5 linked regions of the Homo sapiens genome follow. The gene in region 1 interacts genetically with each later gene. Each region holds a gene or a part of one and is shown on either strand. Other genes may lie near its edges.

What was found.
Region 2: changes in CD22 (region 1) and CAMK1G together harm fitness less than expected from each alone (positive genetic interaction), as found in Homo sapiens cells (one large-scale study listed by BioGRID).
Region 3: changes in CD22 (region 1) and TPSAB1 together harm fitness more than expected from each alone (negative genetic interaction), as found in Homo sapiens cells (one large-scale study listed by BioGRID).
Region 4: changes in CD22 (region 1) and LIG1 together harm fitness more than expected from each alone (negative genetic interaction), as found in Homo sapiens cells (one large-scale study listed by BioGRID).
Region 5: changes in CD22 (region 1) and PLA2G4C together harm fitness less than expected from each alone (positive genetic interaction), as found in Homo sapiens cells (one large-scale study listed by BioGRID).

Annotation. Positions count from the first base shown.
Region 1 is NC_000019.10:35,335,670-35,339,207, forward strand, and holds part of CD22 (B-cell receptor CD22 isoform 1 precursor), read left to right. Parts: intron 1-366; coding exon 367-672; intron 673-2,085; coding exon 2,086-2,352; intron 2,353-2,498; coding exon 2,499-2,762; intron 2,763-3,538. UniProt on the Homo sapiens protein: Most highly expressed siglec (sialic acid-binding immunoglobulin-like lectin) on B-cells that plays a role in various aspects of B-cell biology including differentiation, antigen presentation, and trafficking to bone marrow.
Region 2 is NC_000001.11:209,593,699-209,597,236, reverse strand, and holds part of CAMK1G (calcium/calmodulin-dependent protein kinase type 1G), read right to left. Parts: intron 2,283-3,538; 5' UTR 2,254-2,282; coding exon 2,162-2,253; intron 1-2,161. UniProt on the Homo sapiens protein: Calcium/calmodulin-dependent protein kinase belonging to a proposed calcium-triggered signaling cascade. In vitro phosphorylates transcription factor CREB1.
Region 3 is NC_000016.10:1,239,518-1,243,058, forward strand, and holds TPSAB1 (tryptase alpha/beta-1 precursor), read left to right. Parts: upstream 1-1,187; 5' UTR 1,188-1,211; intron 1,212-1,421; coding exon 1,422-1,482; intron 1,483-1,635; coding exon 1,636-1,807; intron 1,808-1,916; coding exon 1,917-2,182; intron 2,183-2,309; coding exon 2,310-2,473; intron 2,474-2,558; coding exon 2,559-2,723; 3' UTR 2,724-3,037; downstream 3,038-3,541. UniProt on the Homo sapiens protein: Tryptase is the major neutral protease present in mast cells and is secreted upon the coupled activation-degranulation response of this cell type. May play a role in innate immunity.
Region 4 is NC_000019.10:48,163,836-48,167,373, reverse strand, and holds part of LIG1 (DNA ligase 1), read left to right. Parts: intron 1-1,750; 5' UTR 1,751-1,807; coding exon 1,808-1,824; intron 1,825-3,538.
Region 5 is NC_000019.10:48,049,560-48,051,833, reverse strand, and holds part of PLA2G4C (cytosolic phospholipase A2 gamma isoform 1 precursor), read left to right. Parts: intron 1-2,274. UniProt on the Homo sapiens protein: Calcium-independent phospholipase, lysophospholipase and O-acyltransferase involved in phospholipid remodeling with implications in endoplasmic reticulum membrane homeostasis and lipid droplet biogenesis.

The sequences.
Region 1 (3,538 bases):
TGGCGAAACCCTGTCTCTACTAGAAATACAGAAAAATTAGCTGGGTGTGGTGGTGGGCACCTGTAATCCCAGCTACTCGGGAGGCTGAGGCAGGAGGATCACTTGAACTGGGGAGGTAGAGGTTACAGCGAGCCAAGATCGCGCCACTGCACTCCAGCCTGGGTGACAGAGGGAAACTCCATCTCAAAAAAACAACAACACAACAACAACAACAATAACAACAAAAAAACAAAGCAGGACTGGAGAGAGGTGGAATGAAGTGGCAAGGGGTTCCTGAGGGGTGATTTGGGACAGGACATCTAAAGCCAGGTGTACGCTCACGTCCTCAGTCCCCCAGGCTCCTGCACGGGCTCTGTTCTTTTGCAGAAAGGCCTTTTCCACCTCATATCCAGCTCCCTCCAGAAATTCAAGAGTCCCAGGAAGTCACTCTGACCTGCTTGCTGAATTTCTCCTGCTATGGGTATCCGATCCAATTGCAGTGGCTCCTAGAGGGGGTTCCAATGAGGCAGGCTGCTGTCACCTCGACCTCCTTGACCATCAAGTCTGTCTTCACCCGGAGCGAGCTCAAGTTCTCCCCACAGTGGAGTCACCATGGGAAGATTGTGACCTGCCAGCTTCAGGATGCAGATGGGAAGTTCCTCTCCAATGACACGGTGCAGCTGAACGTGAAGCGTGAGTCTCCCCGGCATGCCTGTGGGAAGGGCAAGGTCTGTGTCACCTTCTCCCCAGCCCCGCAGGGGGCATGCACCCAGGGCAGGGGGAAGCCTGCACAGACGGCGGCATCCTCCAGCCCTGGTCACGCCGCCTTGTCAGCCCTGGTGTTTCGGGAAAAAGATTTGCTCTAGCCTAACAGAATAAAATGGTCCATCCTCAAGCCATGACATGAATTGGGGATTATCTGGTTAGGTCTTTTTGTTCCCCTCTTGGTGGGGATTTTTTTCGCATCATTATCTTGTGCCTCATTCATTCAATAAATACGTATCATGAACCTACTAGGTACCAGGCCTTATTACGGCTGCCAATGGGGGGCATGGGGCGGTGGGCAGGGTGCAGCAGTGAGCAAAACTCTTGCCCCACGCGGAGCCAGCGCTGCAGTGAAAGAGACAGACAACAAATGGATTACCAAAGAAATACAGAGCATGAGCCAAGACATTAGAATCTGGAACAAAGCAATGTTAACAAAGAAATATACAACACTATTGTAGGTAGTGATATGTGTGTTAGGAAAAAAATAAGGCCGAGAGAGGGGAGTGATGGAGAGAGACCTCTCTAAGAAGGTGAGCACTTAGGCCGGGTGCGGTGGCTCACGCCTGTAATCCTAGCACTTTGGAAGGCCGAGGCGGGGGGATCACAAGGTCAGGAGATCGAGACCATCCTGGCTAACATGGTGAAACCCCATCTCTAGTAAAAATACAAAAAATTAGCCAGGCATGATGGCAGGCGCCTGTAGTCCCAGCTACTTGGGAGGCCAAGGCAGGAGAATGACATGAACCCAGGAGGCGGAGCTTGCAGTGAGCTGAGATCGCACCACTGCACTCCAACCTGGGTGACGAGTGAGACTCCATCTCAAAAAAAGAAAAAAAAAGAAGGTGAGCACTTAAGCTGACTGGAACGGAGGGAGTGGCTGAGGCCGGCACATATTTGGGAGAGGAGGATTTCAGGGAAAGAGAAGGGCAGGTTCAAAGCTTTGAGGCAGCAGCTGGGTGGGAGGACCTCAGAGGCTGAAGTTCACCGCCTCTGAGGGCCACATGGTAGGACAGGAGGCAGGAGATGGAGCAGGACTCTGGATCCCGAGGGCTGAGGTGAGGGTTTGGGATTCTATGCAAAGCACAGAACCCGCTCGTGGTTTCCAGCAGGATTGGCGAGGTCTGGTAGATGGTGTTAGGAACCCTGCGTGCTGCTGGTGGAGACCAAGAAGTAGAGGAAGTGGGAGGGGGAAGCTGAGAGCCGAGTTAGGAGGCTGTGACCATCACCTGGGTGAAGGGACTGGCAGGCCATGGCTTTGTCAGAATAAAAGCACTTTCCACACCCTCCACCCTCTGAGGATTCCCCGCCCCCTCCCCGACTGCCCCTCTGCTCCTCCAGACACCCCGAAGTTGGAGATCAAGGTCACTCCCAGTGATGCCATAGTGAGGGAGGGGGACTCTGTGACCATGACCTGCGAGGTCAGCAGCAGCAACCCGGAGTACACGACGGTATCCTGGCTCAAGGATGGGACCTCGCTGAAGAAGCAGAATACATTCACGCTAAACCTGCGCGAAGTGACCAAGGACCAGAGTGGGAAGTACTGCTGTCAGGTCTCCAATGACGTGGGCCCGGGAAGGTCGGAAGAAGTGTTCCTGCAAGTGCAGTGTGAGCCCCTCGGAGCTGGGGACAGGCCAGGCAGGGAGGTAGCAGGGGTGGACCCGGAGAGGGGAGCCACGGGGGCTCTCGGGGCCGTGTGCACAGGTTGGGGGTGCTCTCCTCACCCCTCCACTCGCCTCTGCCCCCTCTTCCAGATGCCCCGGAACCTTCCACGGTTCAGATCCTCCACTCACCGGCTGTGGAGGGAAGTCAAGTCGAGTTTCTTTGCATGTCACTGGCCAATCCTCTTCCAACAAATTACACGTGGTACCACAATGGGAAAGAAATGCAGGGAAGGACAGAGGAGAAAGTCCACATCCCAAAGATCCTCCCCTGGCACGCTGGGACTTATTCCTGTGTGGCAGAAAACATTCTTGGTACTGGACAGAGGGGCCCGGGAGCTGAGCTGGATGTCCAGTGTGAGTAGCCACGGAGCCTCTGGTTCTAGGGAGAGAAGATGGACACAGGGAACGGGGAAGGCAGATGGGGTGCAGGGCATTCCGGGGTCCTGGAGTCAAGAGCAAGGAGCAGCCAGGGTCTCCTGTTCACAACTGCTGTCTCAGCTCCTAGCATAGGGCCTGGCTCATGGAGGGTGCTTGGTAGATGCTTGTTTTTTTGTGTTTTAGTTTTTTTTGAGATGGAGTCTCCCTCTGTCTCCCAGGCTGGAGTGCAGTGGCACAATCTCGGCTCACTGCAAGCTCCACCTTCCCGGGTTCATGCCATTCTCCTGTCTCAGCCTCCTGAGTAGCTGGGATGACAGGCGCCCGCCACCACGCCCGGCTAATTATTTGTACTTTTAGTAGAGACGGGGTTTCACCGTGTTAGCCAGGATGGTCTCGATCTCCTGACCTCGTGATCCACCCGCCTCGGCCTCCCAAAGTGCTGGGATTAGAGGCGTGAGCCACCGCACCCGGCCTGTAGATGCTTGTTGAATGAATGAGGCCAGGTGCGGTGGCTCCCGCCTGCAATCCCAGCTCTTTAGGAGGCTGAGGCAGGAGGGTCTCTTGAACCCAGGAGTTTGAAACCAGCCTGGGCCACACAGCGAGATACCATCTCTACAAAAAAATACAAAAATTAGCTGAGCATGGTGGTGCGTGCCTGTGGTCCCAGCTACTGGGGAGGCTGAGGAGGGAGAATCACTTGAGCCCAGGAAGTGAAGGCTGCAGACTGAACTATGTTCCTGCTACTGCACTCT
Region 2 (3,538 bases), on another chromosome or scaffold:
TGTTCATATGATAATTATTATATTTCCTGCCCGAGCAGACAACAGGCTAGATAAAAGAGCACCTTTTTCATAATTTGTACACTTGTCCACTCTCCACCATGCCCCACTGTGGTAACTCTGTGGGGTCTGCAGCCTGGGAATACTGGTCTTCATCCTGAGCACCACTGAGATGTCTTCTCTTTCGCTCAGCTCTAACTTCTGCAACAGCTGTGACATGCCTCCTGTCTTGTCCTCCTGCTCCCTTCAAATCACTGCTGAGCTAGATACATTAGAACACCAGAAGCACTTAAAATATAGATTCCTGGCTGCTGCATCCTATCTCCCAAAATTCCAGTTTAGTGGGTCTGAGACCAGGGATCTATTTTTCAAAAATCACCCAGGCTAAAAGGAATTGTTGTTCACTTTCTTGAGTGTGACAATGATATTGTAGATATATGTGAAAATGCCTTTATTTTAGGAGATGTAAACAGAAGATTCAGAGGTGACATGTCATCATGTTTGCAACTTATTTACAAATAGTTCAGTGCTCAGTACGTGTGTGTGTGTGTGTGTGTGTGTGTGTGTGTGTGTGTGTGGTGTGTGTGTGATGTAAAATACATACTCTACAGTGAAATGTTAACAACGTTGAATTTAGATGGTGGGTATACTGACGTTCATTTTATCATTATTTCACCTTTTCCTTATGTTTCAACATTTTCACAGTTAAAAGTTGGAGGCATAAACTCTCCAGATGACTCCGATGTTCTCCCAGGTTTAGGTGCTGTGTGGTAGACTTCACTGAGCTCTAAGAGGGAAGGTGTGTCTGTCTTTTGAGTCCTACAGCACAAGTCTAGCAGATGGTAAATTCTTGTCAACCTGGGCTCCCTTCTCTCCTCTCCTCTGGATTTTTGGGACACTTAGCAAATCATTTCTGACTTACTCATGAGGCTTGTCTCTTTCTCCTGCCAAAACCCCCTCTCTGGTCACTCCCATCTTGGTAAAGGCCTTTGATGGAAGGCCAATGCTCTCATGACCAGCACCCCGCTGGGATCCTCCTGCACTTGCACAGTCTGACAACCTGCCTGTGCCAGGAGGGCCCAGAAGTGTCTTCTCTGTCTACGGCACGAGTGTGGGCAGCCGTCATTGCCCGAGGTCACTGCCTTCTAGTCAGTGCAAAGTGAAGTGACATTGGCGACAGAGAAAGCTTACCCGGATGGACAGCCCGCTGGCTGCTCTTCACTGCCCAGGCCCAATTAGCCTAGACTAATTAGCTGACCAGCTGGGGTTCTGAGGGGTTTGGGGGCCAGTGGCCTGGAGCTGCTGCCAGCCTGCGTCAGAGTCTGCAGCCTCCCAGGGGAGAGGCAGGACTAAGTGGGGAGTCAGTTCCAGACAAACTGTCTCTGATCTGCCAGCCATGTAATCATCTTCAAGGTGCAGGTTCAGACACCCTGCAGGCTGGCAGAGGTATGGACTAGAGCACAGCTGAAACACTTGGATATGGAGGAGGGAGGATGGTGGTGCAGGGGGCTGATTCAGGTGTGTGTGACCCACGAGCTCCCTGGGCCTCAAAAGTCCCTTCTGTTCCAGTTAGAGCAGAAGAAGAGGTTGTTCACTGCTGGAGAAATGAAGATGCTGGGGGAGGAGACTGGGAAAGTTCTAGTGTCACTGGACCTCCAGAAGTGCTCTCCAACTCCCCTCTCCTGACAGAGGCAAGAACCCACAAACCGGCACAGATCTGGAAGGAGGAGAGGGTCATTGCAGGTGGGTCAGAAGGAGGCAAACCCTGGGGGAAAGGGACTGGTATTCCCTGAGAGCTCCAATTTTGTTTTGTTTTGTTTTGAGACAGTCTCGCTCTGTCACCAGGCTGGAATACAGTAGCGCAATCTCGGTTCACTGCAACCTCCGCCTCCTGGGTTCAAGCAATTCTCCTGCCTCAGCCTCCCGTGTAGCTTGGACTACATCCAATGTATTAAATCATCTTTGGTATTACCCAAAGTACCTGCCACCCACTCCACCCACCATCCTCCAGGCCACAAAACTCTCCCTAAGTCCCTTAAATAAATCGAAATGAAGTCACAGCAGCCTCAGTCCAGTTCATCAATTGCTGCCAGCAGAGAACAACTCTTCTAACCTCCCACTGCAGGCAGCCCAGCCCACCCGACCTCACAGCCCCAGGACTTACGATCCCAGCACTTCCATAAAAATGAAGGTTTTCCGGATGTTGGTGGTCTGTTTCTTCCAGGAACTGCAGTCATCTTCTTCCTTTCGACCCATTGCCTCCAGAGTTGAAGCTTCTGAGGATGCTTTATTGCAGGGAGTGGGAGAAGGAGGAGAAAAAAGGTCTGGTCAGCTGCTTTCTCAAACAAGATTAAAAACAGGCTGCAATACTGACATCTTTCTGTAATTATCAGAAGGAAGGATTAGGAGCAAACCTGGATAACTGGAAAAAGTGAAACTATCTCCACACTTGCTTTCAAAAATTACAAGGACAAATTCATGGAATGCCTACTACATGTGCACTATGCTTGCTGCATGCTCACATCAGGGCAATAGTAAGTACGTGTGTAGATAACCTGGGAATATCCACCTTGAGGGGATCTGAGCTCAGCTCAGGCATGTCCTGTGTTTTCCAAATGATAGTCACAATGTTTACTCAGACTACAGAGTCAGCCAGGCTTCCTCTCTAATGTCACAACTCTGCCACCTCCCTCAATTTTTCTCACTAGTACCTCTCTCCCACCTGTTATGGGTTAAATGAATGAGTATTGTGCTGTTTTTGTAACTCCTACAACATTTAGCACAGTGCTGGGCAAATAGTTATTCACGAAAATCTAAATTGAATCATTTCCTAAATTTATATCAGAGTTCTGGAGTTACCATATTTATTCAACAGTTAACCAATATGTATTTAGCACCTACCGTGTGCAAGGTGCCGATGGGTACTGATAACAACACAGATGCTGGCCCTGCCTTCATGGGGCTGCCAGCCTGAAGGAGACGGGCAATGGGCAAGTAAAGTCATACGTGTACAGTTACAAAGTGTGGGGAAAATTATGAAAGACAAAAACCTGGGTTTGTCATAGAGATAAACAGGGAGGGTCTTCTTTAGATAAAGTCCAGGGAAGGCCTCTTGAGCAGGTCATATTTAAGCTGAGACCCAAAGTTTGGGAAGGAGCCAACCAAGCAAAGAGCATGTGAAGGAGCTTCTGTGCAAAGGAAATAAAACACCAAAGCTGGAAGGGAGGAAATAGCATAGTGTGCTCCAGAGCCTGAAGGGGCAGTGTGGCTGGTGCAGAGTGAGCTCCGTATGGTGGGGGGTGGTGAGTGGGTAGGAAGAGGCAGGCAGGGGCGGACAATAAAGGGCTTTGTAGACTCTGTTTAAGACATTGGATTTTCTTCTAGGTGAGATGGGAAGACATGAAGGATTTTTAGCAGGGGAGTTATTACACCATTGATGTTTTAAAGAGTTCACTCTGGCTGATCTGTGAAGGGAGAGAGATGTGAAGAGAGAGATGATGGTGGCTCGGGCCAGATGGGAGTGAAGGAGAGAATGATGAAC
Region 3 (3,541 bases), on another chromosome or scaffold:
GAGCGGTCTGGGCCACCCCTGCCTGTCCCCCGGGGGGTGCAGCCCGGAAGGAGTCCAGATGGATATGGCCCCGCAGTGCAGAGTCAGCCCCAAACCAGGCTGGTCCCAGGCAGGGTGGGGGCAGGAGGAGCCCCGGAGTGGCCCTGTGTTGGGGGTCGGGGGGCAGGCAGGGGGTCCTGGGGCTCAGAAGCGGAGGAGGTGGGCTGGAGGCCCCAGTGACCAACAGGCCCAGGGGAGTCGGGAGGTGGGGTGGACGGACCTGCAGGGACAGTGTCAGCGCTGAATGGGATGGAGAGCACAGGGAGCTGGGGCCGGGGATGAGACCATGGGGAGCTGGGGCTGGGGCTGGGACTAGTCCATGGGGAGCTGGGGCTGAAGTTGGGGGTGAGTCCATGGGGAGCTGGGCTGGGCCTCCTGGGGTTGCACCTGCACTCCTCTCTGCTCTTCCCTCTGCGTATGAAGCTCAGATCCCATGATAAGGAGGCACCTGCAGACCAGGGGACCTGCACGGACAGCCCCAGAGGTGGACATTGAGGACTCGTAGGAGGACTTGGGTCTCATACGGCGGGTGGGGAGCAGGGCCCCTTCCTGGCTGAGGACACTTGGTGCTGTCCCCTCTCAAGGCTGTTTCCCCATCTGACAAAGGGGTCTCACGTGAGCCCCCAACCAAGTGAGTCGAGGAGGGCTGGCCCCACCCCCGTGGATTCGGAGTCCGTAGGAGGGGTGTCACCCGTCATGTCCCCACCCCGTGGGCACCTTCCCGTCTCTTGGAGCGTGGCCCATGGACATGAGTTCCTCACCCGTGTCCCTCTTGGGGAAACAGGTTTCAGGAGCGACGGGTCTTGTAGCCTGGGGCAGCCAGGCCACCTGGGTGCAGCAATGCCTGAAGGCCTCCTGGCACCGAGACAGGGGCAGGAGCAGATCCCACCAGCGGGAAGGTGGTGGGTTCCAGTGCTGGGATCCACCAGCTGACAGGTGGAGCTGCCAGTCTCCAGTGCTCAGCCCTCAGCGGGGCCTGCCTGGCAGCCCCACACACAGAGGGCATCGGGGTGGCGGGGGCACGTGTTACACGGGGGCCCTGGGTCTGAGTCATCCACTTCCTCCGAGTCTGGATGGGAGGACCCAGCGCCCCTCCTCCGCCCCCTCCTGATCTGGAAGGATAAATGGGGAGGGGAGAGCCCACTGGGTAGAAGGAACAGGGAGCGGCCAGGGTAAGTCCCCACTCTCAGAGACCCTGACATCAGCGTCACCTGGAGCAGAGTGGCCCAGCCTCAGACTCAGAGCACCAAGACCCAGGCCCGCAGGCCTGGACCCACCCCGGTCCCCCCGTCCCAGCTCCATTCTTCACCCCACAATCTGTAGCCCCCAGCCCTGCCCTGTGAGGCCCGGCCAGGCCCACGATGCTCCTCCTTGCTCCCCAGATGCTGAATCTGCTGCTGCTGGCGCTGCCCGTCCTGGCGAGCCGCGCCTACGCGGCCCCTGGTGAGTCCCAGCCGGGGTCCACCCTGCCCCTCACCACATTCCACAGGTCAGGGCCTGGGTGGGTTCTGGGGAGGTCGGGCTGGCCCCCACACAGGGAAGGGCTGGGCCCAGGCCTGGGGCTGCTTCCTGGTCCTGACCTGGCACCTGCCCCAGCCCCAGGCCAGGCCCTGCAGCGAGTGGGCATCGTCGGGGGTCAGGAGGCCCCCAGGAGCAAGTGGCCCTGGCAGGTGAGCCTGAGAGTCCACGGCCCATACTGGATGCACTTCTGCGGGGGCTCCCTCATCCACCCCCAGTGGGTGCTGACCGCAGCGCACTGCGTGGGACCGTGAGTCTCCCGGGGCCTGGAGGGGTGGGGAAGGGCTGGATGTGAGCCCTGGCTCCCGGGTGCTCCTGGGGGCTGCCCAGGGCCCTGAGTGGGATCCTCCGCTGCCCAGGGACGTCAAGGATCTGGCCGCCCTCAGGGTGCAACTGCGGGAGCAGCACCTCTACTACCAGGACCAGCTGCTGCCGGTCAGCAGGATCATCGTGCACCCACAGTTCTACACCGCCCAGATCGGAGCGGACATCGCCCTGCTGGAGCTGGAGGAGCCGGTGAACGTCTCCAGCCACGTCCACACGGTCACCCTGCCCCCTGCCTCAGAGACCTTCCCCCCGGGGATGCCGTGCTGGGTCACTGGCTGGGGCGATGTGGACAATGATGGTGGGTCTGGGGACAGTGGAGGTGGGGCCAGGGTCTTAGCCACAGCCCAGCCCCTGGGCTCCCTCTGGGCTCCAGGTGGGGGTTGCCCGGCCCCCTCCTGAGGCTGCACCCTCTTCCCCACCTGCAGAGCGCCTCCCACCGCCATTTCCTCTGAAGCAGGTGAAGGTCCCCATAATGGAAAACCACATTTGTGACGCAAAATACCACCTTGGCGCCTACACGGGAGACGACGTCCGCATCGTCCGTGACGACATGCTGTGTGCCGGGAACACCCGGAGGGACTCATGCCAGGTGGGCCCCGCCTGTCCCCCGCCCCCCGCCCCCCAACCCCCACTCCCAGGCCTGTTCGGCGAGCGCTGACCTCTGACCTTCCCAGGGCGACTCCGGAGGGCCCCTGGTGTGCAAGGTGAATGGCACCTGGCTGCAGGCGGGCGTGGTCAGCTGGGGCGAGGGCTGTGCCCAGCCCAACCGGCCTGGCATCTACACCCGTGTCACCTACTACTTGGACTGGATCCACCACTATGTCCCCAAAAAGCCGTGAGTCAGGCCTGGGTTGGCCACCTGGGTCACTGGAGGACCAACCCCTGCTGTCCAAAACACCACTGCTTCCTACCCAGGTGGCGACTGCCCCCCACACCTTCCCTGCCCCGTCCTGAGTGCCCCTTCCTGTCCTAAGCCCCCTGCTCTCTTCTGAGCCCCTTCCCCTGTCCTGAGGACCCTTCCCTATCCTGAGCCCCCTTCCCTGTCCTAAGCCTGACGCCTGCACCGGGCCCTCCAGCCCTCCCCTGCCCAGATAGCTGGTGGTGGGCGCTAATCCTCCTGAGTGCTGGACCTCATTAAAGTGCATGGAAATCACTGGTGTGCATCGCTGTGTTTCTGGTTGTGGATGTCACTGGGAGAGAAGGGGTCCAGGTGTGCTGAGGACACCTGCCACAGTGTGAGGTCCTAGCCCTCAAGGCACAGCCAGTCACCGTGGGACGGGGCCTCCTGGGCAGCCCTGGTCCCCGAGGCTGGCTTCTCCCCACACGATGCATCCAGCATTCGGGTCACACAGAGCCACTCGGGCAACTCAGTTGATTATAAAGGACAGCCAGGTCCCTGCAACCGGGTCAAGACAGAGAATGGTCGCCGGGAGCCCCAGGGCTGCCCATCATGAGCCCCTACCCCACGCTTCCCACGAGCTCTTCTCCCGGCCCCTCTGTCCACTGCTTGTGCTTTGCCTAGTTGTTTGCTTTGAGACGGGATCTCGCTGTGTCATCCAGGCTGAAGTGCAGTGGTGTGATCAGGGCTCACTGCAGCCTTAACTCCTGGGCTCAAGCGATCCTCCCATCTTGGCCTCCCATATAGCTGGGCCACAGG
Region 4 (3,538 bases), about 13 Mb from region 1:
GGAAAGTCAAAGAAAACCATTTCTGTTGCCCAGGCTGGTCTGAGCTGGTCTCAACTCAAGCAATCCACGCAGAGGTCCTGCTAGTCCTTTTTTAAAAAATATATTCATAGTGGAAGGAAATATAATGTAAATAATTATAATTACATAATTATAATGTGTAATTTATTTTCTTCCATTATAAATATTAAAGATATAGAAAATTTATAATTTTTTATATCTTTAATATTTATAATGGAAGGAAAGGCTCAGTTCCAATTAGAAGTTTACAAGAATAAAGTCGTAATTTCTTTCCTGTCAAATTTCATAGACCACTTGAGTTCTGCTCTTGGACTCCTGGGTTTTGTGGACCCCAGATTAAGAACCCTTTCTTTTCTTTTTCTTTTTCTTTCTTTTTCTTTCTTTTTTTTTTTTTTTGAGACAGAGTGTTACTCTGTTGCCCAGGCTAGAGTGCATGATCTCACTGCAACCTCCACTTCCTGGGTTCAAGTGATTCTCCTGCCTCAGCCTCCCCACTAGCTGGGATTACAGGTGTGCACCACCATACCTGGCTAATTTTTGTATTTTTAGTAGAGATGAGGTTTCACCATGCTGGCCAGGCTGGTCTCGAACTCCTGACCTCAGGCGATCCACCCGCTTCGGCCTCCCAAAATGCTGGGATTATGGGCAGCAGCCACCACGCCCGGCCTAGGAACCCTTTCATTAGAGTTACTCTAAACTGTGGAAGCCCCAGTGACTGTTATTGATTTCATTAAATAACAGACTTTTTAAAAAAGTATTTAATTTTTAAAAATATATTGTGAAGGGGTAACGTATTCCAATTGTTCTGCCTGCAAAAGCATGCATATTAAAAAATCTCCCTCCAGCGTCTGTCCCTCCTGAGGCGACAGCATTACCAGTTTTTTGTCTTCCAACTGAGATGTTCTGTACATATACAAGATATGTGGATACATTTATAGTCTTTCTTTTGTTTTTGTTTTTTGAGATGGAGTTTCACTCTTGTCCAGGCTGGAGTGCAGTAGCACAATCTCGGGTCACTGCAGCCTCTACCTCCCGGGTTCAAGCGATTCTCCTGCCTCAGCCTCCAGAGTAGCTGGGAATACAGGCGCGTGCCACCGCACCTGGCTAATTTTTGTATTTTTAGTAGAGACAGGGTTTTGCCATGTTAGCCAGGCTGGTCTTGAACTCCTGACCTCAAGTGATCCACCCACCTCGGCCTCCCAAAGTGCTGGGATGACAGGCGTGAGCTACTGTGCCTGACCTATAGCCTTTCTCTTTTACACAGTTCAGTAGCACACACTCTGTGATATTCTGCCCTTTGTTTGAAATAACAGCATACCTTAGAAACTGCCCAAGAGCTAATTTATGTAGACCAGCGGGTACAATTTTATAAGCTTCCACAGTTGTTTCACGGAATTATGTCATCACCTTAAAACAATTTTTCACTAACCTTTAAACTTAACTCCAAAAAAACCCATTTCAGGTCCTCAGTCTATTCCTCATATTAGATGAAAAACAGTCTTCTTATGGTAAAGGAGGCCTCTTATCTTTTTCTCTGATTTGGAGCTTTTATTCTGCACCAGTAAATCTCACCAGCAAATTATTTTGGTTCATAAAAACAGGAGTTTCTTTTTGAAGGGGAAATTCATGTTTCTGTTTTTTTTTTTCTTTCTTTCTTAAAGAAAGGGTTTTATGTGTGTTTAGATCTCTGCACAACCAATCACCTCAACAAGTGTTTGGATTTCTGTTCCAGGAGCAGCTGACAGACGAAGAAAAGTGCTGGACAGGAAGGGAGAATTCTGACGCCAACATGCAGCGAAGTATCATGTGAGCACCCTCCCTTGCCCCTGAGTCTTTCCTTCTCCAAGTCCTCTGTTTCTTTCTCTAAATCTGTACTTAAAAAAACAAACAAACAAACAAAAACTCTTACGTTAGATTTTGAGTTGGAATTTCCAGGAGTCAAGTAGTATGGAAAATGAGCCGTGGGATATGGAAGACAGTGTATTGAACAACAGTTTTTAGTTGCAAGGAGCAGAAACCCTAACGCAGTGGTTCTCAGTCAGCAGCAATTTTGCTCCCCAGGGAACATCTGGCAGCGTCTGGAGATTTTTTTTTTTTGAGTTGGAGTCTTGCTCTGTCACCCAGGCTGGAGTACAGTGGCGCAATCTCGGCTCACTGCAACCTCCGCCTCATGAGTTCAAGTGATTCTCCTGCCTCAGCCTCCTGAGTAGCTGGGATTATAGGCACGTGCCACCACGCCTGGCTAATTTTTGTATTTTTAGTAGAGACGGGGTTTCACCACGTTGGTCAGGCTGGTCTCAAACTCCTGACCTCGTGATCCGCCCACCTCGGCCTCCCAGAGTGCTGGGATTTCAGGCGTGAGCCACGGCGCCCGGCCAGTGTCTGGAGATATTTTTGGTTGTTACAACCTAGGGACAGAGGGTTTGCCATTGGCATCTAGTGGCTAAAAGCCAGGCATGCTGCTAAACATCCTTCAATTCATAGGACAGCCCCCCCAACAACACAGAACCATCAGGCCCAACATGTCAATAGTGTCTAGGTTGAGAAACCTCGTGTTAATGCAGTCCGGCTTCAGGAAGACAAGAAAGGGCATGACTTGACTTATATCATTGAAACCTGCTGGAGTAAACAGCCTCAGGCTTGGTTCGATCCAGTTGCCAAAACTTCCTCCCTGGGAATCTGTCTCTCTCCATTGTTCAGCTCTACTGTCCTTGAGGTTGTCCTCACCCTCAGGCGGGCTCTCCCCTCTTAGCGGTCCCCTTGGAAAGAGGGTGTTAGAGCCCAGTTTCACTGGCCCAGCCTGGGCCACATACCTATCCCTGAACCAGCCACAGGGATGCAGCCTGGATCACGTGTCCACCCCTGGTCACAGGCAAAAGGGCCAGCCCACTCAAATCGTGTGTACTGAGAGAATGTGGGGTAAGAAGCATCCCAAGAGGAAAACGGAGGGGCTGTTACCAGGAGGAAAAAATGGATGGTAGAGAGACCCAGACAAGGGCATCCATCCCAGAAACCTGGGCGGTAGTGGCTTACACAAATGCTGGGTTCCGTTTTTCTCCCGTGATGAGGAATCTGGGGATTGTCTCTCCAGGGCTGATGGTGCCTTCGATTGCTTTCTGTCCACTGGCTTTTGCATGATTTTTCCTTTTCTTTTTGAAGATTAAATAAACCTCTTATTCTGGAATAATTTTAGAGGTACAGGAAAGTTGCAAAGACAGTACAGAGAGGTCCTGTATACCCTTGGCCAGTTTCCATTGTCAATATCATACATTACTATGATCCGTTTCTCACCACTGAGATACTAATGTCAGTACATTACTCTTAACTGAACTCCATACTTTATTATTCAGATTTCACCAGATTTTTTTTTTAATGTTCACGCCTTCCAACATTTTTTTTTTTTTTTTTTTTGAGACAGAGTCTTGCTCTGTCGCCCAGGCTGGAGTGCAGTGGCGCGATCTTGGCTCACTGTAAGCTCTGCCTCCCAGGTTCAGGCCATTCCCCTGCCTCAGCCTCCTGA
Region 5 (2,274 bases), about 13 Mb from region 1:
ACTGTCTTTCCTTTTGTTCCTAAGCCACAGATAAAAGGCCACAGATATCTCCACAGGTAACTTACTCTATCGATATGGTTTGGCTCTGTGTCCCCACCCAAATCTCATCTCGAATTGTAATCCCCACATGTCAAGAGAGGGACCTGGTGGGAGGTGATTGGATCTTGGGGGTGGCTTCCCTTATGCTGTTCTCGTGAGAGTGAGGGAGTTCTCACGAGATCTGATGGTTTTTAAGTGGCAGTTTCCCCTGCTCTCTCTCTCTCGATCTCTCTCTCTCATCTCTCCTGCCACCCTGTGAAGAAGGTGCCCTGCTTCCACCATGACTGTATTAGGTTGGTGCAAAAGTAATTGCGGTTTTGCAACTAAAAGTAATGGCAAAAACCACAACTACTTTTGCGCCAACCTGATAAGTTTCCTGAGGCCTCCCCAGCCACATGGAACTGTGAGTCAGTTAAACTTCTTTTGTTTATACGTTACCCAGTCTCAGGCAGTGTCTTTATCGCAGTGTGAGAATGGACTCATACAGTTCTAGAAGTCAGAAATCTGAAACGAGTGTTATGGAGCAAAACCCAAAGCGTTAGCAGGGCCAACTCCTGCGGAGGCTCCAGGGGAGAAGCTGTTCCTTGCCTTTTTCAGCTTCTAGGGGCCACCCGCATTCCTTGGCTCATGGCCCCTCCTTCAGCCTCTTGCTTCTATCATCTCATCTCCTCCTTGCTCTGACCTCCCGCCTTGCTCTTATAAGGAAAGATCCATGGGATTCCACTGGGCCCACCCAGATACCCAGGATCCTCTCCTCATCTCAGGATCCTTAGATTAATCTCATCTGCAGAGTCCCTTTTGCCATGGAAAGTCATGTACTGGCCAGGAGCCGTGGCTCACACCTGTAATCCCAGCACTTTGGGAGGCTAAGGCAGGCAGATCTCTTGAGCTCAGGAGTTCAGACCAGCCTGGGCAACATGGCAAGACACCATCTCTACTAAAAGTACAAAAAAATAGCAAGGCATGGTGGTGTATGCCTGTGGTCCCAGCTCCTTAGGAGGCTGAGGTAGGAGGATTGCTGAACCCTGGGGAGCAGAGGTTGCAGTGAGCCCAGATCACACCACTGCACTCCAGCTTCGATGACAGAGCGAGACCCTGTCTCAAAAAAAAAAAAAAAAAAAGTCACATACTCACAGGCTCTAGGGATTAGGATAGGGACATCATTAGGAGACATTATTCAACCTGCCACAAAGACACAGACACAACCAGATGACAGAAGCCAGGGGAAGAGTTGGAATATTATTCTGAATATGGTGGGAAGCTGCTGTTAAGTTTTGAGCAGGGAAGTAGCTTTATCTGAGTCACCTTTTCAAAGGCCCACCCTAGCTCCTGTGCGGTTGGTCCCTAGGTGAGATAATTAGCACCCTGAGGAGCAGTTTGGGTCAATGACCTCAGGGTCGCAAGGTAGAGGGAAGAGAAAGCCATTCTGGGCCTCTGGACCAGTCTATGTTCCCCAGAGAGTTTCCCCAAAAGCCCTGCCTGGCATGGGGCAGGGCGGTTATTTGCTGCTCATCTGTCTTCTAATGAGGGGTTGTATATTAGTTTGCTGGGGCTGCCATTAAAAAGTACCACAGAGGCCGGGCATGGTGGTTCACACCTGTAATCCCAGCACTTTGGGAGGCCGAGGTGGGCAGATCATGAGGTCAGGAGTTCGAGACCAACCTGGCCAACATGGTGAAGCCCCATTTCTACTAAAAATACAAAACTTAGATGGGCATGGTAGTGCACACTTGTAGTCCCAGTTACTTGGGAGGCTGAGGCAGGAGAATCGCTTGAACCCAGAAGGTGGAGGTTGCAGTGAGCCCAGATCATGCCACTGCACTCCAGCCTGCTGACAGAGGGAGATTCCGTCTCAAAGAAAAAAGTACCACAGATCAGGTGGCTTAAACAACCGACACTTATTGTCTCACAGTTCTGGAGGCTGGAAGTCCAAGATCAAGGTGTGAACAGGGGTGGTTTCTCCTGAGACCTCTCTCCTTGGCTTGCAGATGGTGCCTCCCTGTGTCTACACATGATTTTCCTCTGTGCCTGTCCACTCCCCACCTTCTCACCTGTAGAACTCAGGGCTTATTTATGCTTATTTGTTGACTCTCTCTCCTCATAATAAGGTGTGCAGCAGTGTGGGGTCAGGAACCACATCACTTTGCTCACCATGGTGTTCATTCTTTCATTCATTGATTCCACAAACATTTCCTGGATGCCTGCTAGATCCAGTCCGCCCAGGTCCTGCAGCCG